2 linked regions of the Homo sapiens genome follow. The protein of the gene in region 1 interacts with the protein of each later gene in a biochemical or structural test. Each region holds a gene or a part of one and is shown on either strand. Other genes may lie near its edges.

The links. The genes of interacting proteins can lie anywhere in the genome.
Region 2: the proteins of NACA2 (region 1) and NACA are reported together in a solved structure, tested with the Homo sapiens proteins (one study listed by BioGRID).

The regions. Positions count from the first base shown.
Region 1 is NC_000017.11:61,589,822-61,592,777, forward strand, and holds NACA2 (nascent polypeptide-associated complex subunit alpha-2), read right to left. Parts: upstream 1,399-2,956; 5' UTR 1,360-1,398; coding exon 712-1,359; 3' UTR 600-711; downstream 1-599. UniProt on the Homo sapiens protein: Prevents inappropriate targeting of non-secretory polypeptides to the endoplasmic reticulum (ER).
Region 2 is NC_000012.12:56,711,907-56,715,436, reverse strand, and holds the end of NACA (nascent polypeptide-associated complex subunit alpha), read left to right. Parts: intron 1-749; coding exon 750-835; intron 836-997; coding exon 998-1,075; intron 1,076-1,753; coding exon 1,754-1,900; intron 1,901-2,246; coding exon 2,247-2,375; intron 2,376-2,528; coding exon 2,529-2,651; coding exon of another isoform or gene 2,652-2,678; exon of another isoform or gene 2,679-2,884; coding exon 2,885-2,899; 3' UTR 2,900-3,010; downstream 3,011-3,530. UniProt on the Homo sapiens protein: Cardiac- and muscle-specific transcription factor. May act to regulate the expression of genes involved in the development of myotubes.

The DNA.
Region 1 (2,956 bases):
ACGGTTTAGTAGGTTATTAGGAAAATCTGGGAGAGGATGATGGCAGTAGAGACACAGAGAGGTGCATGAATCTGAGAAATGCTCAGGAGGCAGTAGCAATAGGACTTGAAGATTTACTGGGTGCCAGAGATTTTAAAGGATAGGGAAGAGCTAAGGATGAGTATCGAGTAGCTGGTTTGGGAATGAAGGGTATGATGGTGACTTTCACTGAGCTGGGGACACTGGAGAAGGAGCTCTAGTCATCCGGTAGAGGAGAGATGATGAGTATACTTCTGGCTATCCTGTGATTGAGGTGCCGGGAGAGTATCCAAGGAAAGACGGTAAGTAGGTGGCTGGATATCCAAATCTGTGTCTTAGGACAAAGATGGGACTGAAACTATTTGAGGATCATCAGCAAGAGAAATGAATCTGATCACCTATGTTGAGTGTGCAGAGTGAAAAGAACACAAGGCCTTGGAAAGACCCCTGAGATGCACTAATATTTAAGAACTGGGTAGAAGAAAAGATGACCACAAAGGAAACTGAAGAATAAGCCAGGGAAGAAGGTAGATCCGGAGAGTACGGCACTTGGAGACCAAAAAAAGAGAGCATTTCTTTTCTTTTCTTTTTCCAGCAAGAAGTCATAACTTTATTTATGATAGAAACAGTACAAATTTCAAACCAAGCTGCAGTTACTCCTTTGAGACACCAAAAAAAGTTGCTTTCAGATGGTTACACTGTTAATTCCATAATCGCATTTACAATATCATTACTGTTGTTCTTCAGAGCTCGGACTGCCTTTGCTCTCGACACATTTGCTTGTGACATGACCAATTTCACGTCTTTAACTTCTACACCTGTTTCATCGACCTCTTCCTCTTCACTCTCCTCTTGTACAGTTGGAGTCTGTGTGTTTTCTTGAATGTTTCCGACAGCTTCACCTTGAACTCTGAATTTCTCCGCAGCTGCTAGTTGTGCTTGCTGAGATAAATCTTGGATCTTGGCTTCCCCAAAAACTATGTAGGCATCCGAAGCAGGGCTCTTGTAGACGTCCAGTTTTGTGATGACAAAGAGGATATTCTTAGATTTCCAGATAGTGACTCTAGTAACTCCTGTAACCTGTAGAAGACCCAGTTTGGACATAGCCTTCCGTGCCCTCTTTTCACTCCGACTCTGTTTTGCTTTACCGACTGGTTCTTCATCAATTTCAGCTGCTGCCACCAGCCAGGCTTTTTGTGTGGTGGTCTGGGTGGAATCCTGTTCTTCAATCCCTGGTACTGATTCACCACTATCAGATGCTGTTCCAGACCCTGTCTCAGCCTGGGACTGCGGCAACTCCTGCTCTGTAGCAGGGACGGTTTCTGTGGCTTCGCCCGGCATTTTGTGCAGGGAACGCGGAAGCAAGATGGCGGCAGAAAGAGCGCGAGCGAGAGCGTGACCCACGCTTGTTGCAGCGGGAAGCAAAAAGAGAGCATTTAAAAAGACATTTGTCAGCAGTGCTACACTGCCATGAGGTCAAGTTGGAATGGAAAAGGATCTATTGGATTTAGAGACTGTAAGTTACGCGGTCTGAGTGGTGCGGTGTGAGTGGCACTTGGGAATTGGTTAATGGTCAGTTCCTTGAAAAAATGACTAAATTGGGGAATCATTTTTTAAAATTTACATTATTTAACATGCTGTTTTAACTGAAAACATATCACTGTACTTTTATTTGCCAATCTTTTGATAGGAGCCGTAAACCTTTCTTTGAGTATTATCTGTTTATTGGAATTCAGCCTCGGTTTTCTCACATAAATCATATCTATAAAGGTATTGTCTATCATTCCCTGTTTTAGTTTATTTAAAATAGACCAAGAACTCAAAGGTGCTCATGAAGCAATCTGAACGCAGAATCCTAGATATGTATGGTTTCCCTCGATCTTTTCTTGCTCCCCCAATGAATGGAAAATTGTAAATGTTTCCAAACCATTCAATTTAATTTGCACAGAAACAACTATTTTATTTTTTCTATTTATATTTCATATAACAGTTATATAATGAGTTTACGTAATAATCAGTTAAATTACATAATTATAGTAATAAGAATACCCAGCATAAATAGGTTAAATAAACACAACTGATTCTTGGTAAGCCTATAACTGTATAGAGAAAACAAAAAATCCATAGAAAAGAAAACCAAAAAACAAAAATCCGCGTATGTACTAGGCAGTAGCACGTTAGCTATAGAGTGTGCCGTTGGCTTCCACCAATATGTTTCACGAAGGCAACAGAGAGTATCAGTCAATTTGCATTATGTTGGCTAAATATACGTTAAGAGAGTTTTTGCTTTAGTTACAGGGGATGACTCAGAAGGCAGTTAGATTGCAGTGGGCTGAGAAGTAGGAATTGAAGAAATGGAAAGATTGGATTAGATCAGAGTACTCTTATAAGAAGTTTAACTGTGCGGGAGGAGACAGTGCAGTAGCTGAAGACATAATTATAGTTGGCGGATAGGTAAACACATATTCTTCCTAAGAAGAGACCTGAGCATGTTTAAATTCTAAAAGGAGTAGTTAAATACAAATGAAAGAGGGAAGTTGATCAGTCAAGGTTCTGAGGAGCCAGGAATGAAATCCATGGCACAAGTAGAACGACTAATCTTGAATAGCAGGAAAGGCATCCTTTTCATTGTAATAGGAGGAAAGAAGAAAAATATGGATTTGGGTGCAAGCAGATTTTTAGGTTTGGTAGCACGATGTCAAAGGAGTTCCCATCTGGTAACATTTATTTTTTTTTTTTTCTAAGAGGCTAGAGGAGCTGTCTGCTGAGAGTGAGGGGAAGGCAAGAGAGTTAAAGGTTTATGTATGATGGAAAAGATTTGGAATAGGTGCTGCATAGAAGGAAGAAAATGATCACTAAAGAAGCACAATAGGGTAGTAATTCAGTATTGAGGTCCTAGCTGAGATAGGCAAATACTGTGCTATATGCTGGGTTGAGC
Region 2 (3,530 bases), on another chromosome or scaffold:
GTAATGACCAGTTGCCCAGGGACTCCCTTTTCATAAAAATGTAGAAATCTGTTTTTCCTAGCCTGAAAATGGTGCAGGTGTATGCTTTTTTTCCTCAGTAGTCTTTACTGATGCTTGGCCTTTGAATTGAAAGAAATTTATGTGAATTATGTTTGGAAAAACTAGAGATATAGGTCATCATCATTGAGAATCTTCTAATTATATTGATTAGATCACATTGCTGGGGTGAATGGTTTGAAAATGAGGCTGAATATGTGTACGTGTCTGCTTTTGACTTCCTCCAACCCAGTTTAAAAGTTGAGGGGAAAACCACCCAACCTGTTGTGCCTCCACGGTGTGATTTTGGTTTTTTCACTTAAGTGTATCTGGGGGCACCTTCTGACAGAACTTTACAGGGATAATTGGACTATTGGGTAAAATTTTAGAGTCATATGGGTCATTATTTGCCTGTGCCAAGAAACAAAGACCTTGAGGGAAAGAAAGCAGTTACAGTATATTAAACTGCTCAGCTATTTCTAGTGATTAGTCCTCATTTCTGGGGTTAGGGCTGGGTCTTTACTAGATGTGTACCCGCTAGTTAGTGACTAAGTTAGGGGCTATCAAGCTGACTTCACACAAGCCAGTTGGTTTACATTTAACATTCTTAGGTCTAGCATGAGGCATTCACCTCTAGTCCAGGGCAGGCTGTGGTGAAGTACCTTCTCTTATAATTTCTACTATAAAGCAGTAAAAGTTGTTTCTCATCTTAGGGTCTGGAACAGAATCTGACAGTGATGAATCAGTACCAGAGCTTGAAGAACAGGATTCCACCCAGGCAACCACACAACAAGCCCAGGTGGGTATTCTCTTACTAACTGGTATTGGGTCAAAGAAGCAGGGTTGATCAGGGCAACTTTTGTATTTGGAACTGTGAACCTTCATAAAGGAAAACCCACAAGGAGATTGTGCTATCCAGATCTTAGATTCTGGTTAACTAATAGCTGTTTTATCTTCTTAGCTGGCGGCAGCAGCTGAAATTGATGAAGAACCAGTCAGTAAAGCAAAACAGAGTCGGAGTGAAAAGAAGGCACGGAAGGTAAGATTTGAAAAGGATTTCAGGATCTTATGAAGCACCTTTATACAGAGTGGAACTGTTTATTTCCATAGGTTTTTGGGGAACAGGTGGTATTTTGGTTATACAAGTAAGTTCTCTAGTGGTGATTTTTGAGATTTTGGTGCACCTGTCACCCAAGCAGTATACACTGAACCCAATTCTTAGTAGTGGTAGAATCCCGTTGAAAGTAACAGAAGTAGCTAGGTTGGTGGCTCACACCTGTTATCCCAGCACACTGGAAGGCCAAGGCAGATGGATCACTTGAGGTCAGGAGTTCAAGACCAGCCTGGCCAACATGGCGAAACCCCATCTCTACTAAAAATACCAAAAATATATAGCAGGGCATGGTGGTAACGCTCCTGTAATCCCAGCTACTAAGGTGGCTGAGGCACGGCAATTGCTTGAACCTGGGAGACGGACATTACATTGAGCCGAGATTGCACCACTGCACTCCAGCCTGGGCGACAGAGCAAGACCTGCCTCCAAAAAATAAAAAATAAAGTAACAGAAGTTACTACGGCAGAAAACCCATTCTCTATTCTTGTATGAACTTTTCTCAGCCTGGGGAAAGGCTTTGCTTTGGATGTTGTATTATGTTCCTTGCTTCTTTAGGCTGCTTCTAAAGAGGTTGAAAACCTGATACTATTTTCTCTTCTTTAGGCTATGTCCAAACTGGGTCTTCGGCAGGTTACAGGAGTTACTAGAGTCACTATCCGGAAATCTAAGAATATCCTCTTTGTCATCACAAAACCAGATGTCTACAAGAGCCCTGCTTCAGATACTTACATAGTTTTTGGGGAAGCCAAGGTGAGTAAACTTTTCTTGGGCATTGTTCCAGACCAGGGTTTCTCAACCTCAGCACTGCTGACATTTTGCGTCAGATAGTTCTCTGTTATGGAAGGGCTATCCATTACATCCAGTTTTGATTACCCAAAAACTCCATTGCCATATATCTCCTGGGAGACCTAACTACCCCCTAGTTGAGAACCACTGCTCTAAACCTAAACAACTACTCTTTCTACTGTGAGGGCAAGCAGTTTAAAGCTGTACAATAAGTTACCTGAATGGGTTTACAGAGAGTTGTGAAACTATATGATTTATTTTTCAAAGACTGCTAATCTACTCACATGGATCTGTATTTTCTACCCTGTAGATCGAAGATTTATCCCAGCAAGCACAACTAGCAGCTGCTGAGAAATTCAAAGTTCAAGGTGAAGCTGTCTCAAACATTCAAGAAAACACACAGACTCCAACTGTACAAGAGGAGAGTGAAGAGGAAGAGGTATACTAGGAAATCTTTCATAATTTAACTCTCGCCGTATAGCATTGTGTTCGTGTTGGTGAGCTATATTAAAAACTAGATTCAGGAGACTCCAAAGAACTGCTGAAATTGTTCTTGCCTTTAATTTACTGCTTTTTCCCTCTCATCTCTCAGGTCGATGAAACAGGTGTAGAAGTTAAGGACATTGAATTGGTCATGTCACAAGCAAATGTGTCGAGAGCAAAGGCAGTCCGAGCCCTGAAGAACAACAGTAATGATATTGTAAATGCGATTATGGTAAGTGTTCAAGCCTTTGTTCCTTGACTCCCTCTGCCCTGACCAATTATGAGTGACTTTATTTTGTCTTGCTAAATATCAGCCAATTAAGGAACCTCATTCCAGAGCCTCTTCTGAGTTGCCGTATAGGTTTTAGTGGCCTAAATTCTCCTGATTTGCCTGTAAGAGTTTTAGTGACCTGAATTCTCCTGATTTGCCTATAAGAACCGCTAATTATCTTTTCTCTGTTACAGGAATTAACAATGTAACCATATGGAAGCAACTTTTTTTGGTGTCTCAAAGGAGTAACTGCAGCTTGGTTTGAAATTTGTACTGTTTCTATCATAAATAAAGTTATGGCTTCTTGTTGGATGAATTCAGTCGGTGACTGGTCTCTTCCCCGCCACCCCCCCACACCAAAAAAAAAAAAAACTTAAAAAGGTTCTAGTAATTTATTAATTACTCCTAAGGCCTCCCTCATTTGATAAGGTTTAGTGCCACAGATTTCCCACTTAGAATCTCAGACTTTATACCTCTTTTAAGAAGTTACTGGCCAGGCGTGGTGGCTCACGCCTGTAATCCTGGCACTTTGGGAGGCCAAGGAGGGGGCAGATCACGAGGTCAGGAGATTGAGACCATCCTGGCTAACACGTTGAAACCCCGTCTCCACTAAAAATACAAAAAATTAGCCGGGCGTGGTGGCGGGCACCTGTAGTCCCAGCTGCTTGGGAGGCTGAGGCAGGAGAATGGTGTGAACCTGGGAGGCAGAGCTTGCAGTGAGCCCAGATCACGCCACTGCACTCCAGCCTGGGCGACAGACAGAGCAAGACTCCATCTCAAAAAAAAAAAAAAAAAAAAAAAAGTTACTATACTAGGCTGTTAGGACCTTCTTAACTTAAG